2 separate regions of the Homo sapiens genome follow, and region 1 is linked to region 2. Evidence: fine-mapped expression QTL. A gene starts in region 2. The other region holds a variant in brackets. All regions are shown on one strand. Distances are from middle to middle.

Region 1 (5,365 bases), 27 kb after region 2:
GGACAGGAATGACACAGTGCCACTTACTAGGTGTGACTTAACCTCTCTGAGCCTTCATTGCCACTTCAGAAAAATGGGGAAAATAACAGGAGCCATTTCAGAGAGCTCTTGAAAGGGCGAAGTGACATGAATTCACACAAAGCACTTAACGTGGGTCCTGCCTACAGCGTGCGCTCAAACGCTATTATTCCATTTGTATGGAATTAGGCTCCGAGTCAAGTCTCAGGGGCCAGAGGCATATTTCTGAGCTCTGAGGGACTCGGTTCCCTCTAGGGGACTTGGTAAGGGGCAGAGGTTTGTGCAGAGAAAGGAATTCTGGACTAATCTGGAACTTGAATGCTGCTGAAATGATTTAAGCCGGGGGTTCTCAGCCTCGGTACTGTTGTTTTTCTGGGCCGGATGATTCTTGGTTTCGGGGGCTGTCCTGTGCATTGTCGGGCGTTTAGCAGCATCCACGGGCTCCAACCTCTACCTGCCAGTAGCACTCCCCAGTTTTGACAACTAAAATATGTCTTCGGGCATTGCCAAATGTCACTGGGAGCAAAATGTCCCTCTATGGCTGTTGAGAAAAACTGGGCTTTAATCATTTGAGTGAGGGGCAGCAGAGAGAGGCCTGGGGCTGCGCATTCATGGTGTTGCTCTTCTTGCAGGGAGGAGCCAATGGCTGGGCCTGCCATCCACACCGCTCCCATGCTGTTCCTCGTCCTCCTGCTGCCCCTGGAGCTGAGCCTGGCAGGCGCCCTTGCACCTGGGACCCCTGCCCGGAACCTCCCTGAGAATCACATTGACCTCCCAGGCCCAGCGCTGTGGACGCCTCAGGCCAGCCACCACCGCCGGCGGGGCCCGGGCAAGAAGGAGTGGGGCCCAGGCCTGCCCAGCCAGGCCCAGGATGGGGCTGTGGTCACCGCCACCAGGCAGGCCTCCAGGCTGCCAGAGGCTGAGGGGCTGCTGCCTGAGCAGAGTCCTGCAGGCCTGCTGCAGGACAAGGACCTGCTCCTGGGACTGGCATTGCCCTACCCCGAGAAGGAGAACCGACCTCCAGGTTGGGAGAGGACCAGGAAACGCAGCAGGGAGCACAAGAGACGCAGGGACAGGTTGAGGCTGCACCAAGGTAGCTGGAGGGCTGCGAGGGGTGGGGATGGGGGTGATTCCTGCCATGGACTGAGGGGAGCAGGAGAGGATGCAGGCAAGGGTCAGGGGCATGAGGTCCAGAGGAGAGGAGGGGTCTCACTGAAGCCAGAGGGACCTGGTAAGGGGAGGAGGCTGGGAGAGGCCTGGGGTTGGGGCATGGGAAGAGGAGAGGGATGTGTTGCAATACAATCTGTCTTATCGCGGCCCGGTGCCGTGGCTCACGCTTGTAATCCCAGCACTTTGGGAGGCCGAGGCGGGCGGATCATGAGATCAGGAGATCGAGACCACGGTGAAACCCCGTCTCTACTAAAAATACAAAAAATTAGCCGGGCGCGATGGTGGGCGCCTGTAGTCCCAGCTACTTGGAAGGCTGAGGCAGGAGAATGGTGTGAACCCAGGAGGCGGAGCTTGCAGTGAGCTGAGATGGCGCCACTGCACTCCAGCCTGGGTGACAGAGCGAGACTCCGTCTCAAAAAATAATAATAATAATCTGTCTTATCAACAGATCATCCTCCTGAATCAGGAAGTTCTACCTTGTATCTGACCTAAATTTCTCCTACTTTAAGTTCTGAGTAGAAATGGAACAGTTCAGCGCCCTCCAAGCACATTTCTTACTCGACTCTGACGCATCCGGTAGGAGCTAAGAGCCTAGACTCTGAAGCCAGGTCTGCCTGAGATCAGGTCCTGCCTCCACCACTAGGGTGTGGCCCTGGGCAAGTTCTCTTTCTGTGCCTCGGTTTTCCCCTCTGTAAAGCAAGGAGACTGGTCCCATCCCATCTACCCTCAGTGTCGTTGCAGAGACTTGGTTAGTGGGGCGCTTGGAGCTCAGCTGGCAGGGCCATGAGCAGTCATTGTTCTGGTTAATCTCAGCCACCTGCTGAGGCCAACTCAGTGTCCTCCAGCCTGGACACAGGTGACTCCAGGAGAGGCATCGCTTGCCTACCGCTCCTGCCTCTGCCCTGTTTGTCTCAGTGCTCCCCTAGCCCTTCCCACCTTCCTTAACGTTTCCCCCACATCCGCTGGGAGCTAGCTAGCCCCCTGCTGGCCCAGGCTTCCCCCTCCCCGTGCCCATTCAGTCTCGGAGTAGACATGTCCCCTCAGCTCCAGTCAGGTGGCTCCTCCCAGCCTTGCCTGGCCCTAAGCCAGGGAACTTGGCTTCTAAGCTCTCCATGTGACCCGACTGCCTCTAGGGACATGCCGAGTGCCACAAATGCAGTGGTGACAGCAGGGTTCTTTGGCAGGAAGGCAATGGAGCTTCAACACCCCTTCTCGTGCAAACAGCTGAGGCTGGCTTCCCTGTGAGGCCTGAGAACCCCCCAAGAGGGCAGAGGTCAGTCAGGGTCCCCCGGCTTCGACTTTCAGCCTCCCACTCCTGGAGTTACCTGTGTCAGCTTTCAGGGGAGGATGCTGGGACCTTTGAGGACAGCTAGAGGGCACGCGTGGGGTGTGGACCCGTCCTGCTGGGCTCCGGCTCCGCCAGCTCCAGGGCTGCAGCCAGGCCTCCTGGGAGAGTTGATATGGTGAGGAGGAGGTGGGGAACGGAGAAGGTTTGCGGGCTAGGCCCTGCTCTGCTAATGACTGGCTGTGAAACCTCAGGCCAGGCTGGGCGTGGTGGCTCACACCTGTAATCCCAGCACTTTGGGAGGCTGGGCAGGCAGATCACTTGAGATCAGGAGTTGGAGACCAACCTGGGCAATATGGAGAAACCCCATCTCTATCAAAAATACAAAAATTAGCCAGGTGTGGTGGCGCATGCCTGTAATCCCAGTTACTCAGGAGGCTGAGGTGGGAGAATCACTTGAACCCTGGAGGCAGAGGTTGCAGTGAGCCAAGATTGAGCCCCTGCACTCCAGCCCTGCTGGAGCTGAATCCAGACCCTGCTACTCATGAGCTGTGCATCCTTGCGTGAGTCACCTAACCTCTCTGTGCTTCAGTTTCCTTCCCTGTAGATGAGACTGAAGGAGCACCCACTTCCCAGAGCTCTTGCAGTAGTTAGACGAAATAACACTTGTGACACAGCTCCTCTGGGACCCAGCACACAGCAGGTGCTCCATTAATGGGGTGATGACTAATTGTCACCAC[A/C]CAGGATGCACTCACTTGTGTGTGATAAGCAGTGATTCCCACCTCCCAGCTTCCTCAAAGGCCACTGCAATGATTCTCAGCCTCATGACATTTCTCCCTACTCAAACTTCACCTCCTCCAGGAAGCCTTCCATGGTTAATCCTACTAGTTCCTATTTGTTATACTTACATATCTGGCTGCGCCCAGCCAATCTGGACTTGGACTTGCTGGAATGTTGCTTTACAGGGAGAATCCTTGGACTGTCTCCCCAGCGACACTGCAAGTTCTTCCAAGACATTTTCCTCCGAGTTCCCATCCCCCAACCTCCCAAGAAGGGTAGGAAGCAGGAATGGGGGCTGAACCAAGGGCTTGTCACACAGTGCCTGCTGCCTCCTAGTTTGCAGCATAAAACGTGGGTTCTACTGTAGACTGCCACGAGGTGGCAAGCAGATATAGCCCCCGTGCTCCCCACCCTGTGTCTCAGGCCGAGCCTTGGTCCGAGGTCCCAGCTCCCTGATGAAGAAGGCAGAGCTCTCCGAAGCCCAGGTGCTGGATGCAGCCATGGAGGAATCCTCCACCAGCCTGGCGCCCACCATGTTCTTTCTCACCACCTTTGAGGCAGCACCTGCCACAGAAGAGTCCCTGATCCTGCCCGTCACCTCCCTGCGGCCCCAGGTAAGGGGTCCCCAAACAGCCTCGGATCTGGAAGGGTCCTTGAGCCCATGTCATGGAAAGCCCTCTTAATACATGTAGGGAGACTGAGGCACGGGGGCAGGAGGCCACAGAGCTTACTTAGATTGAAACCAGATCTCCTGCTGCCCATCCAGTCTAGCTCCAGCCCTGGTGGGTGCCCCATCCTGACAAGGGTCTGCCACTGTCCAGGGCAAAGTGCTCCTGGGGGCCCACTCTGGGGACAGCCAAGGAGGCAAGCGGTAGCTCAGCATGCTGGTGTCTGCATGGAGAGCAGCAAGGCCTGGGGAGGAGCTTTCTGTGTACAGAGGAGCATGAAGCATAATAATGGTGATTTTTAAAACTGTGTCGTCAAGACCCAGAATTAATAAGCATTAGCTAACACTTGGACCCATCTGCATCAGATCTTTAAAAAAGATATGTGGGCTGGGCGCGGTGGCTCATGCCTGTAATCCCAGCACTTAGGGAGGCCAAGGTGGGCAGATCACGAGGTCAGGAGTTCGAGACCAGCCTGGCCAACATAGTGAAACCCCATCTCTACTAAAAATACAAAAATTAGCTGAGTGTGGTGGCGCACGCCTGTAGTCCCAGCTACTCGGGAGGCTGAGGCAGGAGAATCGCTTGAACTTGGGAGGCGGAGGCTGTAGCGTGTCAAGATCGCCCCACTGCACACCAGCCCGGGTGACAGTGTGAGACTTTGTCTCAAAAAAAAAAAAAAAAAGAAATGTGGGGCGGGCACGTTGGCTCAAGCCTGTAATTCTAACACCTTAGAAGGCCAAGGCACGAGGGTCACTTGAGCCCAGGAGTTTGAGATTATCCTGGGCAACATAGTGAGACCCTGTGTCTACAAAACTTTTTTAAAAAATTAGACAGGCATGAGGGCATGTGCCTGTAGTACCAGCTACTTGGGAGGCTGAGGCAGGAGGATCGCTTGAACCCAGGAGGTCAGGGCTGCAGTGAGCCATGATTGCACCACTGCACTCCAGCCTGGGCGACAGAGTGAGACCCTGTCTCAAGGGAAAAAAAAAATGTGGAGAGAAAGTAAGCGGCAAATGTGGCAAAAACACTACCCACTGGTGATTCTGGAAGAGGGGTATATAGGAGCTGACCGCATCGTTCTTGCACCTCTTCTGTGGCTTTTAAAGGTTTTCAGGCCGGGCGCGGTGGCTCATGCCTGTAATCCCAGCACTTTGGGAGGCCAAGGCGGGCAGATCACAAGGTCAGGAAATCGAGACCATCCTGGCTAACATGGTGAAACCCCATCTCTACTAAAAATACAAAAAAAAAAAAAAAATAGCCGGGCATAGTGGCAGGCACATGTAGTTCCAGCTACTTGGGCGGCTGAAGCAGAGAATTGCTTGAACCCGGGAGGCAGAGCTTGCAGTGAGCCAAGATCACGCCACTGCACTCCAGCCTGGGCGACAGAGTGAGACTCCATCTCAAAAAAAAAAAAAAGGTTTTCAAACTAAAATTATTTAAAAGG
Region 2 (5,351 bases):
AACACGGCGAAACCTTGTCTCTACTAAAAATACAAAAATTAGCCAGATGTGGTGGCACACGCCTGTAATCCCAGCTACTCGGGAGGCTGAGGCAGGAGAATCACTTGAACCCAGGAGGTGGAGGTTGCAGTGAGCCAAGATCACGCCACTGCACTCCAGCCAGGGCGACAGAGCGAGACTCAGTCTCAAAAAATAAAATAAAATAAAATATAAAATAAAAAATAAAGTGCTGACTACCTCAAGTAATGTCTTGAATACCATACTGGAAGTGAGAAAACAATGGTGGTGTGGGGACTTGAAGCGGGGACCACCTGGATGTCCTTTGAGCTTCTACCACTTATTCTCATGTTTCCTGAGTGCCTTCCAGAGACAGGCACTTCTAGGGACTGGAGCTACAGTGCGATGCACACTGCTTTGTCTGCCTTTTAGCCTTAACCCATTGAGTTTAGGATAAATGGTAGGGAGAAGATTTGGAGGTTTTTGGAAATACCCTCCTCACACCAAGGTTCACCAGCTTCACGAGCTCCTTCAAAGTGCCACCATGCCCCCAGGGTAACTTTTTTTTTTGGAGACATAGTCTTGCTCTGTCGCCCAGGCTGGAGTGCAGTGGCACGATCTGGGCTTACTTCAACCTCTGCATCCCGGGTTCAAGCGAGTCTCCTGCCTCAGCCTCCCTAGTAACTGGGATTACAGGCGCGTACCACCACACCAGGCTAATTTTTGTATTTTTAGTAGAGACAGGATCTCATCATGTTGGTCAGGCTGGTTTCTTGAACTCCTGACCTTGTGATTCGCCCGCCTCAGCCTCCCAAAGTGCTGGGATTACAGGTGTGAGCCACCATGCCCGGCCACCCCCGGGGTAACTCTTATCAGGCCTGGTCCCTAACTTCTGGCAAGGGGAACTCTCTTCTGAGGGGTGGGTAGGCATCACCACTTTGGAACTGGAAGGCATTGGAAGGCATGGGCAGGGCCCTGCGGAATGAGGTGGCTTGGCCCGAAGTGGAAGAGGTTTTTTTTTTTTTTTTTTTTTTTTTTTGAGACGGAGTTTCGCTCTTGTCACCCAGGCTGGAATGCAGTGGCACAATTTCGGCTCACTGCAACCTCCGCCTCCTGGGTTCAAGGGATTCTCCTGCCTCAGCCTCCTGAGTAGCTGGGATTACAGGCCTTGGCCACCACGCCCGGCTAATTTTTGTATTTTTAGTAGAGACGGGGTTTCACCATGTTTGTCAGGCTGGTCTCGAACTCCTGACCTCAGGTGATCCGCCCGCCTCGGCCTCCCAAAGTGCTAGGATTACAGGCGTGAGCCACGGCGCCCGACCAAAGAATTTTTAAAAGTCCACCCTGTACCCACTCTGTGGTTCTGGGACGTGCCTCACCTGGACCGGCACGTTGTACTTCTTGCGTTTCTGGAAGATGCCCACGGGGTAGACCTCGCGCACGTAGAGGATGAGATGCACAGCCACCTCCAGGAACTCGCAGAGCACATCGGCCACCACTGCAGGGGGGCACAAGCCGGTGGCGCGCTCGAGGAAGCCCGCCGGCCCAGACGCCCCCGCCCCCGGGCCCGCAGGTCCAGCCTCCCTACCTTGGCCAAAGTTGAGGTCTTGTCGTGTGAGCGTGGTCATCCTTCCCGCTACCTGAGTGTTGGGGCAAGGGCAGAGGGTAGTTCCAGAGACCCAGGAGCCCAGAACCCGCTCGCTTCCACCGTCTCTTCCCTCCCCACAGTCTGTGGGAACTGGGGAAGGACCTCCCGCTTCGCACAGGCTCAGGGCAGCTGGAAGAACCTCCACCCCCACGCTGGCGTCCGTGCTTGGGGGCATCAGCCTCTATCCACTGGCCGCCCGCGCCCCCTCGCCCCGCTGTCTCGCGGGGTGGAAAGACCACAGCTGTGCCCCCGAAAAGGGCAGGGCCGCGGACGCAGAGGGAAACAGCGGGATGCCCAGGGCCGGGAGCGCAAAGCGGGACATGCGGAAAGCGAAGCGGGGTTGGAATAAGACTCCGCCCCCTGCTACGCCGGATCCCTCCCGGCGGGAATCCCGCCCCCTCTCCCCTCCCCCAGTACCGGCTCTGCGCTCGGTTCCCGCCCGAGATCGGGCCCGGCCCCGCCGCGGGGAGCCACCGACCGGACCGATCGCGCCTCCCGCTCAACCCGGGGCCTCGGCGCCGCTCGGTGACGTTCACGGCGCTCCGGTGGGTCCTAGCGCCCGCCCCGCCCAGGCCACGCCCATTCCCGCACGGCCCAAACCGGGCCTCGCAGAGGGCGGTTCCGCATGCGGGGGCGGGTCTCCGAGGGGCGGGGGCCGGGCCTCGGCGTCCGGGAGGGGCTGAGACCCGCCGCGCCACCTCCCTTCAACTTCGGGTGGGCGCGAAGAAAACACAACGTTGATCTCCACGTTCCATTGGATCGCTACATATCTTCCCCCGAGGGCATTTCTCTCGCTTTAGCAGGCGCCGGAAGAGGGCTGGGGAGGGACGGGGGAGCGCGCAGCTGGGGACTAACGGCAGCCACATCTGAGCTAGCCCGAGTCACCATCCCTGCAGCTGCCCACGCAAAAGCGAATCCTCTGGCTCGGGGGCGGGAACAGGGGAGGACAGGATTGTACCGGTTGTCAAGGCCCGGGTGAAATTTTAAAAATAAAAAAAAGAGGGCGTGCACCGGCGTCGCCCCTGCTCCGCCCCCACCGGGTACCTAAATGCAGCCTGGCCTGACCGCCCAAGAGGATGAACCCTCCCCGCCCTACGCTTCATAACAATAGCTGACCTTTTTGGAGCTCCAGCCGAGTGCTGGGCACTGGGCTAAGTGTGTCCGTGGATTATCTCAGTCCTGGGAGTAACTCCATGAGGCAGTTACTGTGACTGTTCTCTTTATACAGATAAGTCAAGCGAGGTGCAGAAGGGTGAATAACCTGCCCGAGTCTCCCAGCTGGTGGGGTGGGCGATGGCCGAGGTGCCTCCTGCCACTACATTTTACTGCTCCCAAGTCCCCCAGGGGCGTGGACTCGGTCTGGAAGTCCTGTAAGGGCCCTCAGAGATGATATTACTAAAATAATAAAAAATAATGACTAACATCGAGCACTTCTTATGTGTCAAACACTGATTCCGTTAATTCTCTCATTAACCCTAGCAGCTAAGTCTCCATTTTATAGCCCCACTTTACAGATGGTTAAACAGGCCCAGAAACGTTCTCTAATTCGCCAAAATCACACAGTGGGAATACAAACCCAGCTCTGATGCCTCTTCTGACACCAGGGCTTCCACTTATTTACAGCCCCCTTATTTTACAAGTGAGAAAACTAAGATCTGAGAAGCAGCTACGGAGTTAGTGGGCAACAAGTCAGGACCAGAAGCCAAGAGGACTTTGTCTGTGACCTCCAGGGACGTAAGAGCTTGTTAGTCCCATCCGTCTGTTTGGACACAGATCTAGCCAGACTTGTTTATCGTTTACAGCTCATTATAGAAGACCTGGATCCCTCCCCCCGCCCCCTGATGCCTTCAAACCTGCATTTCCAGACTTCTAATGGGGAGAGAAAAAGTAACCTGTAAGTAACCCATTAAGCTAGGAATGTCAGCAAAACATTTCTTCAAATGCAGTCCTAGGAAATCTGCATCAGAATCCCCCAGGAGCCCATTAATCACAGCTGCCCTGCTGCCTAGAGCAACCTGATCGAGGTGGGGTGCACAGCAGGGCACTGGCCCTTTAACAAGCTCCCCAGGGGCCCGGATGCCCAGCAAAGTGTGGGAATCACCACAGAGGTTTGGACTGTTCCCAGAGAATATCTTCATTTTGTAAAAATGCGATGCATTTTGTAAAATTGTGATGTAAAATCATCCATCCAAAGGGATGGATGATTTTGTTTTAGGAACTGGTGCACTTGGCAGCACATTCTGGGCACAGCAACCATTCTCAAGATATGGGGATCCTGCACACATCATGCCATTTCCACACAGAGCTGGCCAAGCAACTCACTGGCTTATACACAGAGTTCCGTGGCTCCTTGAGACTGACTCATTGCAGAACTTGGGAAAAGCAAGGGTCTTTCCTTTCCCTCTCTGGAGGCTGCTTAAGCAGCTTTTGCATTGGTGACAGGCAGTGGCAGTCATAGGGGGCAACTCCTTGCAAAGGAGCCCTTCAGACTGGGGCCTGGGGTGGGGAAACTGAGAGCCAAGTGACTCCTGTGGGATGGCCTTCAGGACACAGTGTGAGGGGCATTGGGGCTCAAGTCAGGCCCTCCCTCCATGAGCTCCCAGCCCCAGCCCTCTGCCCTGAGAAAACACAATACGAGCCACCCGTAGAACTCCTGACACACAGAGCTAAGAACGTCAGAAAAACCTTGGAGGACATAAACTCAACTGTCATTTTTCCTTGGGGAAACTGAGGTCCCAACAGCTCTTGACACTGGAGTACCCACCCTGTCAACTAGAAACCTGTGGATAAAAATATCTGGGTTTGCAAATATCATATGTTCTCACTTGTAAGTGGGAGTTAACCTATGAGGATGCAAAGGCATAGGAATGATATATTGGACTTTGGGGACTCGGGGGGAAGGAAGGGTGGGAAGGTGAGGGAAGGGTGGGAAGGTGAGGGACAAAAGACTACATACTGGGTACAGTGTACACTGCTGAGGTGATGGATGCACCAAAATCTCAGCAGTCACCACTAAATAACTTACCCATGTAACCAAAAATTATTGCAATTAAAAAAAAACGTCAGCTGGGCACGGTGGGTGGCTCACGCCTGTAATCCCAGCACTTTGGGAGGCTGAGGCTGGTGGATCACCTGAGGTCAGGAGTTTGAGATCAACCTGACCAACATGGAGAAACCCCATCTCTACTAAAAATACAAAATTAGCCAGGTGTGGTGGCGCATGCCTGTAATCCCAGCTACTCAGGAGGCTGAGGCAGGACAGTCACTTGAACCCGGGAGGCGGAGGTTGTGGTGAGCCAAGATCGCACCATTGCACTCCAGCCTGGGCAACAAGAGCGAGAACTCCATCTCAAAAAAACAAAAAAAGTCTGGGTTTGGGGCCTTGGGTTCAGATCCAATCACAAACAGAAGGAAGGTGGGTTAGGAAGCAGATGGGGAGGGATTCAAACCCATCTGACCCCAAACCCCTAAAAGGCTTCAGTCTCATTAGTGAAATGAACAGGCCAGATAGATGTTCCCTAAACCTCTGATGGCCTCAGGTTCCATGGGGGCGGGGGCAGGGGCAGGGGGCCGAGTCAGCATGGGCCCATCCGGGGAGCTCTGCCAACACTCCATCCATGCGCTCTTCAGCATCTGGTTTTGCATATCTTAATCGCATCAGCATGATGGATGGTTGTGGGATCCAGATTACATTATGGGGTTAATT

Alleles and levels. Positions count from the first base shown, and alleles are read on the strand shown. Sizes are in standard deviations (SD) of each study's normalised expression.
In carriers of allele A in region 1, the expression in nucleus accumbens of the gene that starts at base 2,172 in region 2 tends to be lower than with C alone (small effect, 0.32 SD a copy in GTEx).

The links. PIP is the estimated chance that this variant, and not a neighbour inherited with it, causes the effect. A credible set is the group of variants that fine-mapping cannot tell apart.
Region 1: its variant is the best candidate, but not a certain one, in a credible set for the expression of MAD2L2 in nucleus accumbens (GTEx, PIP 0.73).

Annotation. Positions count from the first base shown.
Region 1 is chr1:11,705,599-11,710,963 of GRCh38, forward strand. DRAXIN (dorsal inhibitory axon guidance protein) reads left to right here. Exons shown (of 7, transcript NM_198545.4): 2 at 651-1,111; 3 at 3,677-3,867. The coding sequence starts at 661. Among named protein-coding and RNA genes, the nearest start is that of DRAXIN, 17 kb to the left of the region's middle. The variant A/C (reference allele first, on the strand shown) is at 3,214.
Region 2 is chr1:11,678,977-11,684,327 of GRCh38, forward strand. It overlaps MAD2L2 (mitotic arrest deficient 2 like 2), which reads right to left and starts at 2,172. Exons shown (of 9, transcript NM_006341.4): 1 at 2,063-2,172; 2 at 1,586-1,637; 3 at 1,377-1,495. The coding sequence starts at 1,625. RefSeq lists silencers at 1,494-1,553, 1,994-2,513 and an enhancer at 4,137-4,718.